Linked DNA regions of Homo sapiens. The protein of the gene in region 3 interacts with the protein of the main gene of each other region in a biochemical or structural test. Each region holds a gene or a part of one and is shown on either strand. Other genes may lie near its edges. The genes, in order: NXF2, DDX19B and NUP214.

The links.
Region 1: the proteins of NUP214 (region 3) and NXF2 form a complex in vitro, tested with the Homo sapiens proteins (one study listed by BioGRID).
Region 2: the proteins of NUP214 (region 3) and DDX19B are reported together in a solved structure, tested with the Homo sapiens proteins (2 studies listed by IntAct, with this or other methods).

What each region holds. Positions count from the first base shown.
Region 1 is NC_000023.11:102,306,164-102,309,918, reverse strand, and holds part of NXF2 (nuclear RNA export factor 2), read right to left. Parts: intron 2,894-3,755; 5' UTR 2,841-2,893; coding exon 2,798-2,840; intron 1-2,797. UniProt on the Homo sapiens protein: Involved in the export of mRNA from the nucleus to the cytoplasm.
Region 2 is NC_000016.10:70,302,091-70,305,845, reverse strand, and holds part of DDX19B (ATP-dependent RNA helicase DDX19B), read right to left. Parts: intron 1-3,755. UniProt on the Homo sapiens protein: ATP-dependent RNA helicase involved in mRNA export from the nucleus.
Region 3 is NC_000009.12:131,191,531-131,195,285, forward strand, and holds part of NUP214 (nuclear pore complex protein Nup214), read left to right. Parts: intron 1-677; coding exon 678-762; intron 763-3,702; coding exon 3,703-3,755. UniProt on the Homo sapiens protein: Part of the nuclear pore complex. Has a critical role in nucleocytoplasmic transport.

The DNA.
Region 1 (3,755 bases), on a different chromosome or scaffold from region 3:
CGAGAGAGAGAGAGAAAGAGAGTGTGTGCGCACATGCGTGGGGTCATGTGCATGTGTGTTTCCTTTCATGTTCCAACTTTCTAGTCTCTACAGTACAGGAAAGCATATAAGAATGTTTAAGAGTGCTGGAATAGTTGCCAAGTAAGCAGATTCATCGTATATTTCACAAGACATGTTTTCTGTTGTAAATGGTATATTTACAATAATGATGGTATTTTCTTTGTTACAATGGTTTGTGTATGTTCGTCTTATAGCCAACAAACTTGTTAATCTCCATTATTATTTTTAATTTTCTGTAGCTTCTCTTGAGTTTCATATGAAGATAGTCACGTTGACAGCTTTTTCACTTTTATACACGTATTAATTTATGTATGTAGGCATGCATGTATCACAGCTTACCGCACTGCCTAGTATGACATATGGCTTACTGCACTAGACTCAGTACGACATTGAACAGAATTCGTCATACCAGTCATCTTTATCCCTTTTCTGATTGTAAGGAGAATACTTCTAATGTTTTACTATTAAGGGTGGTGTCTGATGGGGTCTATTGTTTTGATACCCATTGTCAGTTTAAAGAGATAGCTTTCTATATTACCGATCTGCTGAGAATTATTGGTATTGTTGTTGTTCAATCCCGGTTGGTTAATTTATTGCATACTTTTTTTTTTAACTGGATCTTTTGTGGTATTTGTCCTGTCCTCCTCCCTTTATTCAGCTAATGTGTTAGATTACATTATGGATCTCTTAAAATGTTAAACTCAGCTTGCATGCTTGGGATTAAACACAACCTCGTCATGCTGTATTATCTGCTTTACCCATTGTTGGGTTTAGTTTGCTATTAATTGATTTATATTATTTGCGTTTATGTAACTAATTCGGGTTGGCTAGTAATTTTGCCTTTGCATGTATTCCTTGTCAAGAATACATTGAATAAACCAAGGTTTTCTATTCCTTCAGTTTGGAAAGTTATATATATTTTTCCCCTGGAATTCATCTATTTAATCTAAATTTTCAAATTTTCACATCCTTTTCATAATGTGATCTTTTTCAATCTTTTCTGTCACTGTAAGTGTGACACTATCTTCATTCCAAAAGTGGCTGACCCGCACCACCTCGCTAATTTTCTCTGCCCGTGTGGCCAGAGATTTTATCATTATCCTGCGCTTCTGAAACACTGACATCTAGCAATTTTGTTCAACTCTCTCACATGGTGTTTTCACTTTCATCAAGGTAGGCTCTATTTTTTTATCATTTTTCCTCAACATAGCGGTAAGACATGGGGATTATTCCACATTAAGTAAATGATCAATGAAAAGTCCTTTCATCTACCACCTGGTTTTATTTTTATAATTGAATACAATGGATATTCAAATATCCAATACATTCCCTCATTTGGAAAAGACCTCTGGCTTATCAGTGCTGGTCTTTTTAACCAGTGCCATCGTGTCTATTCAATTAAACTATCAGATGATTAAGGAAGAGGGCATTGCATCATTGATGTAAAAGAATTTTTACTATAAGCTTCCTTTAAGAGAAGAGCAGGCAGCGTAGAAAGAAGCAGAAAGGACATCGACTTTGAAATCACGCCTGGGTGGATTCAAATCCTGATTCTGTCACTTACGGCCGATGTGATGTTAGGCAAGTACTTAATCCCTCCCAGCTTTGATTCCTTCATGCAGTAGTCAGTGCTGCCATTTACCAAGTGTTTACATTCTCCCCTGTACCAGGCACCTGGTAGGACTGCCCGACCCGACTGCCTTCCTTGGGGCAGGGCCGTGCATGTGACTAGCTCTGGCCAATGGGTTGTGAGTGACGAGTGACACGGGTTATTTCTGGGTCAGAACCTTTGGTTGTTGGTTTGAGACCCTCTACGGCTCTCTCCCACTCTGACGCAGTGAGTAACCCCTTTCTAGATGGTGGCTGCTCCATTAGTTTGGGTCTCTGAGTCATTCCAATAAGAATGGCTCAGAACCCAACATCCACCATCCCGTGAAGGATATGCACCTGGCATAAACATGCAGCAGGAGTGAGAAATAAGTCACTGAGGTTTGGGGGTTGCCTATAAGCACAGCGTTACACTCAGCCTCTCCTGACTCATATATCTCATCTGTCAATTAAGATAACACCCTCTCAGGACTTTCCTGAGGGTTAAATGCAGTAACTTGCATGACAGCCGAGGTTATCACAGTGCTTGACATATGACAGGGGCTCAAACTATGGCAGCTGTAATTATTAAGTAATAATAAAATGGTTCTGAAGAAGTGTGGTTTTTTATTGTGTAAAATGAGCGGTACTGCATCTGCTTGTCCTGACAGGTAAGTTGTATCTTGTTTTCAAGAGTGGGGGCACTTTATTTGCTGCCACAGGTAAGGCTTCCTAATGACTTGCATTTATGCACATATTGTCTGCCACCACCATGGTATCAGATGCATGCTTGGCGGTATCTCTGAAGAGTAAAAAAGTACAAAGATTCAAGCAGGAGAGACTGACTGATGACATGAGATAAAATGAATTAAAGAGCAACAATCAATGTCTTAATGAGCAGACTAGATTACAACTATTATAAACCCACATTCCATTGTTCTGAGTAAACAAAGGCACAAGGTTTTAAAGTGTTAGAAGATGTAGTCTGAACAGGGTTTCCCCAAATATTTTCTGAAGAACACTGGTACCTCAAATGCTCTGTGGAAAAAAATGTTCCATTCCCATACAAGTTGGGGAAAGTAGCCCCCCCTTTGAGACTCGTGTTGTTTATTAGCATATCATCTAAAAAAATCCTACAGTATTCGTTTACCTTCAGTTCTGTATGTCCCACACTTCTTTAGAGTAGAGCACATTTTGTTGTTGCTTTGTCCTGACACTACAGTCTCACAGAACGAACTTGGAAATGCTGAAATGAGAGAAAAATAGATTATTCAACCTACATGTAATATCAAATATCACAAGTGACAATATTCTCTAACCATCTGACAAGCAATATTTGAAACCCCGTAAGTTTAAGCACAATCTTGCTATTTGCTCAACTTCATTCACCCAATACCGCTTTCATGATGTACCAAATGTTATCACCCATGATTGTACCTTAAATCCATTCACTATACTTTTTTCCACAGGAAGAAAAGGAGAGAGTTTTCAGAAAGGAATCTAAGAAGCAATCATTAGAAAATCAGGGGTTGATGGGGGGAGAATCAGAAACAAAAGAGTGTGAAGCTATACTACTATAAGCTACTGAGAGATCCTAAGCGCACACACACACAAAAAAAATGTCACCCACTCCCAAATGTACTTTTTAAAGCCAATGGAGTTCAAATAAAGTATAACAAGTAAATTCTGAATCTTCACATCATGACGACTTGGACACTTTTATTGAAATATCAAATTCTCTTTTTAAAAAAATTCCCGATTCCCCTCTCTCCCTTTCGCCCACCCCCCTGAGCCCATGTTTAGAAGGTTTAGTAGAAAAATAAATCATGGAAACAAAGAGAATCTTTACATAATCAAATAAGAGACAGAAATTAAGATTGGGTCTGGAATCGTCTATACAAACTGGGATCTAGGCAGTCTCGAGTGTCCTTAATAACAACATGGTCTGAGGAGGGGCAGAGGACAGAATCACCTGGCACAGACGGTGAATCGGGCAGAGTGACAGGCAAGGGTAGGGCTTTTAGTGTGGGGGCGGGAAGGGGGGGGAATCCCATCAGGCTTCCACAGCCCTGCCCCTGAGAAACGACTTACGAGTTCATGAATCCCTG
Region 2 (3,755 bases), on a different chromosome or scaffold from region 3:
GAGCTTGCAGTGAGCCGAGATTGCGCCACTGCACTCCAGCCTGGGCGACAGAGTGAGACTCTGTCTCAAAAAATAAATACATAAAAATTTAAAAAATAATAATTAAAAAAACAAAAAACCTCTCAGAACTACTTGAAACACATATTTATCTCTACGTTGACTAATGATGTGTTTTTTTTCTAAGTGTATATTGTGCCTTGAGATATTGGCTAATAAAAATATGAAGCCAGCACACACAAGCACAGGAAAGCATTATTTCATTTTTATCTCAGCCTTTATTACTTTTTTATTTGCTTTACAATGTACATAATATATTTAATAAAACAGTAAAGTATGCAATTTCTAAATAGATATTTACATATTGAGAGTGAATGATCAAAAGTTTCTTTGCAACAAATAACAAACTACACAGTTCATTTACTCAGTTAACAATGCCTGCCAGGTTAGGCATGAGAAATGCTCAAATGGATAAGGACCACAGTTAAGGGAGGGGATGCCATAATGAAAACAGAAGCATTAAGTGGAAGCAGGTATTCTGGGTCCTGAGACCTCCCTCACCCTTTCCTCCACCTAGATTCCAGAACACTGAGTCAGACCTCCACCATCTAGGCAGGAGTTTAGAGGATCCCTCTCTGCAAAATCTGGCCAGACCGGGAGGAAAGTTCTCAGGATGCTGACATAGACCACTAAAGATATATAGTTAAGGTCAGAATAGACAAGCCCCACTCATGTGTTTACAGCTTCCACTCAACTTTTTAGTCACTCACTCTTAAATATGAGTGGCCAAGCAAGGATTACAGACATCTGAGAAACAGTCATCACAAAAAAGTAGACACTGAAATATATGGATAAAACACGCCTCACATGAAACAGAGACTGAGCAGAGAGAAGAAGAAAAATATCCTCCAAATGATGAGGATATTATGACCATGAAAGCCGTACAGGGTATTGTCTGTAAAAAAGGAACAGTAAAGGAAGAAGAAAAAAGTTCCTGAAATTAAAAATAAGAAAGTAGAAGTGAAAATGAAATATACCAGACAGTACTTGAGAAAATCTCCCAGGAAATATAGAAAGAAAGAAAGAAAAAAAAAAGAGACAAAGATGAAAAACAGAAGAAAAAAGAAAACCAAAGGACTTTTAAACGAATGGTGCTGGAACAATTAAGACAGCTCTGGCCAGGAGTGGTGGTTCACGCCTGTAATCCCAGCACTTTGGGAGGCCAAGGCGGATGGATCACCTGAGGTCAGGGGTTTGAGACCAGCCTGGCCAACATGGTGAAACCCTGTCTCTACTAAAAATACCAAAAGTAGCCAGGCTTGGTGGCAGGCGCCTGTAATCCCAGCTACTCGGGGGACTAAGGCAGGAGAATCGCTTGAACCTGGGAGGTGGAGGTTGCAGTGAGCTGAGATCACGCCACTGCACTCCAACCTGGGGGACAAGAGCAAGACTTTGTCTCAAAAAAAAAAAAAAAAAGACATCTCTGTGAAAAAGATGAACAGATGAACCTCGGCCAGGCACGGTGGCTCACGCCTGTAATCAAGCACTTTGGGAGGCCGAGGCGGGCAGATCATGAGGTCAGCAGTTTGAGACCAGCCTGGCCAATATGGTGAAACCCTGTCTCTACTAAAAATACAAAAATTAGCTGGGCATAGTGGTGGGTGCCTGTAATCCCAGCTACTAGGGAAGCTGAGGCAGGAGAATTGCTTGAACCCCGGAGGCGAGGGGTTGCAGTGAGCTGAGATTGCGCCACTGCACTCCAGCCTGGGAGACAGAGCCAGACTCCGCCTCAAAAAAAAAAAGATGAACCTCAATGCATACCCCTTATTAGAAAAAATTTAACTCAAAATGGAAAATGGATTACAGACATAAATGTAAAATTTAAAACTATAAGACTTCTAGAGAACACAGGAGAAAATCTTTGTGGCCTTGGATAAGGTGTATATCTTGGAACACAAAAAGAACTAATCATCTAAAAATTGATAAATTAGGCCGGGCGCGGTGGCTCACGCCTGTAATCCCAGCACTTTGGGAGGCCGAGGTGGGCGGATCCCAAGATCGGGAGGTCGAGACCATCCTGGCTAACATGGTGAAACCCCATCTCTACTAAAAATACAAAAAAAAATTAGCCTGGCGTGGTGGTGGGCGCCTGTAGTCCCAGCTACTCGGGAGGCTGAGGCAGGAGAATGGCGTGAGCCTGAGAGGTGGAGCTTGCAGTGAGCCGAGATGGCACCACTGCACTCCAGCCCAGGCGACAGAGCAAGCCTCCGTCTCAAAAACAAACAAACAAACAAAAATTGATAAATTAGGTTAATCAAAGTTGAAAATGTCTATTATTTGAAAAGTACTGTTGAAAAAAGACAAGTTGTAGTTTGAGAGAATATATGCAAAACATATCCGATAAAGGACTTATCATGCCTGTAATCCATCTCAGCACTCTGGGAGGCCCAGGTGGGCGGATTGCTTGAACCCAGGTGTTCCAAGACCAGCCTGGGCAACATGGCAAAACCCTGTCTCTACAAAAAATACATACATTAGCCAGATGTGGTGGCGCATGCCTGTGGTCCCAGCTACTCTGGAGACAGGGTGGGAGAATCCCTTGAGCCCAGGAGGTGGAGGTTTCAGTGAGCCAAGATCATGCCACTGCACTCTAGCCTGACTCTAGTCTGGGTGACAGAGTGAGACCCTGTCTCAAAAAAAACAAAAACAAAAACAAAAAACAGAACTTCTATCCAGAATATATAAAGAAACTTCCCAACTAAAAACAAAAACAATCCTACTTTAAAAATGGGCAAAAGGTTTGAAAAGCCACTTCAAAGAAGTTACATACATGGCAAATAAGCACATGAAAAGATTGTCAACATCATTAGTCATTAGGGAGATATATAAGTTAAAACCACAATGAGACACCAGCATGTACCTATTAGAATGAAGGAAACTGACAATACTGTGCAGGGAAGGGTGTGGGGCAGTTGAAGCTCTCATCCATTGCTGTTGGAAAAGCAGAATGATACACTTTGGAAAATAGTTTGGCACATAACTTACAAAGTTAAACACATACGACATAACACAGTAAATCCTACTCTTTGATATTGACTTTACCCAAGAGAAATGCAAACATATGTCCATACAAAAATCTGTACCTTAATGTATAGAGTAGCTTTCTTCATATTGTCTCAGACTGAAAATTACTCAAGTGTCCATCAATAGAAGAATAAGCAAACTGTGTATATATATCCACAGTGGAATTCTACTCAGCAATAAAAAGGAATGAACTACTGATACATGCAACTTGGTTGAATTCTAAATGCATAATACTAAGTGGAAGAAGCCAGACTTTTCAAAAGGTTATATATTATATATATGATTCCATTTTATGACATGTTGGAAAAGGCAAAACTATAATGACAGAAAACATATCAGCAGCTGCCAGAGAAGGGTGAGGAGAGGGAGTGAACTACAAGAAGTTGTAGTTCTTTGTAGAGAGGGTTTATGTGTTGCCTGTGGTGGTAGTTACACAACTGTATGCTTTTGTCAAAATTCATAGAACTGTACACTAACAAAGTTTAATTTTACTCTGTGTAAATTATACCTCCATAAACCTGACTTTTAAAAAAATTAAAGGGCTGGCCAGGTGTGGTGGCTCACGCCTGTAATTCTAGGACTTTGGGAGGCTGAGGCATGCGGATCACTTGAGGTCAGGAGTTCAAGACCAGCCTGGCCAACATGGTGAAACCCCACCTCTACTAAAAATACAA
Region 3 (3,755 bases):
AGTAAGTAGTTAGAGTGAAATCGAACATGGGGAGAATGATGGATTGCACTTTTAACCTTTTTGCATGTCTCCATATTATAGCAATCATGTTTTACATCTGTAATTTTAAAAAAAGAACACGATTATTTGTTAAATGCCAACAAAATCTGTGGAAAATGCAGAAATGTATATAGAAGTAAACAGCCTTAAAGTCACTACTCAGAAATATTTAGCTTATGAACCTATTTCTCTTTTGGATTTTTGTCCTTCAGCATAGATTAATTTCAAATAATTATAAAGCTACATTATATATAGTTTTATTTACTTTTGTGGGGAGGGGGCTTAGCCTCACATTATAAGCATTTTCCCATACCATTGAAATATATAAGAGTGTACTTTTAAAACTGTACATTTAAACTATACTAGAATTATTTTGATATATTTTCTGTAAAGGAGAAGATGGCACACCTTAGACTGGAATTAACATTGACAGAGCCACGGAGCAATTTCAGAGACCTCAAACACAAGTGAGGCAACGTGCTCACTCCCCATGGCCACTGACGTGTCACAGAAGGCACATGTGGTGCTAAGCAGCACCTCACAGGCTGAGCTACAGGGAATTATACACTGGAACAGTGTTTCTGTCTTTTTGTAATATTCTTTTTTTTTTTTTTTTTTTTTTTTTTCCATAATTTCAGGGACAGCCAAGATAGAAACAGCTGTGACTTCAACCCCATCTGCTTCTGGGCAGTTCAGCAAGCCTTTCTCATTTTCTCCATCAGGGTCAGTAATGAACTTAAGTTTTATGGCAAATTACTAGCAATTAGCTTCCCCAAATCTTACAATTATAGATATATTTATTTACTTATTAAATGTGTATGAACCCAGAGTTCTTACCGTGGCAGTAATACATGTGATGATAGTGGCAATAGTTTAATGTTCTCATGTAAATCGATTTTCCCTTTGCAATTCAAGTTAATACTTGTTTGTTACATATTTGTGTATCTGTTTTGTTTTTTAGCCTAAGCCTCATTTTCTTTGAGTAATGAGTCTGCTAAATTCTGTAGTTCATCTAGTTTGTCACACTGAGATGTTTCCATTCTGACACCATTTTGGGGGCTAGATGTGACATTCAAATTGACTTTGCTGGACAAACATGGTGGCTCATGCCTATAATCCTAGTGCTTTGGGAGGCCAAGGTGGGAGGGATTGCTTGAGGCCAGGAGTTGGAGACTGACCTGGGCAACATAGTGAGACCTCATCTCTACAAAAAATTGAAAAATTAACCAGGTACGTTGGTTCACTTCTATAGTCCCAGCCACTTGGGAGGCTGAGGTGGGAGGATCCCTTGAGCCCGGGAGTTCGAGGTTACAGTGAGCTATGATCACACCATTGTACTCCAGCCTGGGCAACAGAGTGAAACCCCGTCTCCAAAAAAAAAAAAAAAAAAAAAAAAAAAGGCTTACTGCATCGAGAGTACAGTATACTAAACTTAGAGAATGTAATGAAAGATAATAGGCATTTGAAATTTGAGGTTTTATATAGATGTGGAGGAATCTGTTTCCGTTTCTTTAAAAAATAATAATAATAATGATGGCTGTACTTGTAAAGTTGAGTTGTTTTTAAAAATGAAAGAATCTTCTATACCTTATCTCAAGATGAGCCTTTGTTAAGGTGCCTGTTCTCTGTGCCCTGAGCGCTCATGTTGAAACCTGTGTGAGCTGCTGAAGCATTGGGTTAGACTCTGTGGAACTGAGATCAAAATGTGTCAAAAGGATTTTTTGCCATTGAAGCATTGTGCATTCAGTTCCTTAGAAAAGCCTCTTAAGTTCTTCAGTTTATGCTTTTGTAACTAGGAGCATATTAACCAGTCTCTTTTTCCTGATTTTAATATATTTTTTGAGTGTCCTTCAGCCTAAGGAGAAAAGAGGGTATTAGAATATTATTTGAGGGGGAAAGTAATACATATATTTTTTCTTTATTATAAATCATTATGTTTTATGCTTCCCAAAGGTAATTTGCAGCAAATTTTAAAGAGTAGGTCAATGCCAAGAATTATTGCATCCTTTACAGATGGCTAATAATCAGTCTTCTGTGAAATGATATTCTTCTTCCTTTTCTTTTTTTTTTTTTTTTTTTTTTTTTTTTTTTTTGGATTTTCAGGCAGAGTATCACTCCGTCACCCTGGTTGGAGCGCAGTGGTGAGATCTCAGCTCACTGCAATCTTCACCTCCCGGGTTCAAGTGATTCTCTTGCCCTAGCCTCCCAAGTAGCTGGGATCACAGGTGTGCACCACCACACCCAGCTAATTTTTGTATTTTAGTAGAGATGGGGTTTTTTCATGTTGCCCAGGCTGGTCTTGAACTCCTGGCCTCAAGTGATCCACCCGCCTTAGCCTCCCAAAGTGCTGGGATTGTAGGCACGAGCCACTGCACCTGGCCCTCTTCCCATTTTTAAAATAACCCAGAAAAGGTGGGGTCATTGAATCAATGGCTTGACACTATTAGATAAAATTTTTTCACTAAGAAAGGTTGTGTTTTTTTTTTTATTTTTAATATGATGGGCAAAGGTGTCTAAGTTATTACATTATTTAGTATATTTGATGTGCTTGGTTCGTTATATTTTAAAGCTAGTTTGAAATCTGCAATTTGAACTTTGCGTGTGTGTGTGTGTGAGATAGAGCAAGATTCTGTCTCAAAAAAAAAAAAAGGTGCAGTGGTACAGTCATGGCTCACTACAACCTCCACCCCCAGGACTGAAGTGATCCTCCTGCCTTAGCCCCCCGAATAACTGGGACTACAGGTGCGCGCCACCACACCTGGCTGATTTTTGTTTTTTAATTTTTCGGTTTTGGTTTTTGGGGGTTTTTGTTTTTGTTTGTTTGGTTTTTGGGTTTTTGTTTTTGTTTTGTAGAAACAGGGTTCCACCATGTTGCCTAGGCTGGTCTCAAACTCCTGGGCTCAAAGGATTAACCTGCCTCAGCCTCTCAAAATGCTGGGATGTGAGCCACCATGCCTGGCCTGAGTTTTTATCACAGTGAATAATCTGTTCTGATTCACACTCGCGTGGGATTTTCTTCCTTAGCTATGGTGTCTTCACTTACAGTGTAAAGAAAACGTACAAAAGGAGAGAGGAGATGGTGAAAGGAGTCACAAAGTTTTTGAACTAGATTTTCCTAGCCGTAAAACTCAGTTCTGTCAAAATGACTGAGTTAGGGCTTCTATTTCATTGTATCCATTGTTTTCCCTAGCAGTGTGGGGCTCTCTGACATGCTTGTTGGTCTTGGAGGGGTTCTGAGAGGCTCTCCCTAGTCTTAAGTGCTTCTGTCTTACCAGACCTTCCTTCTGTCCCCTCACTTAACAGACCATCTGCTCCGGCCACCATTCCCACATGCACATTTGTCATGTGTCTCTACTGCTGCAGCTTTGCTCATCTTGCAAGAAGTCCCCACTCAAACTTCTGCTACAGAAAGCCCAGCCATCCCCCAATGGGCTCTCAACTGCTATCCCTGTCGTATCTCACACACAAACTGCTTCTCTGCTTAGAGATCATAGAGTGGCCTTACTGCTTCTGAGATAGGTGCTTTGACTCTGTTGTCATTTATCTTCTAGATTGTAAATTCCTGAGGGCGGTTTGTATGAATGAATGATAAAATGGAATATTAAGAGGGCAATATTGTGCCTTGGTTTGTTCCTTTTTAATTTCTCTTTTTCCACTTGTTAGGACTGGCTTTAATTTTGGGATAATCACACCAACACCGTCTTCTAATTTCACTG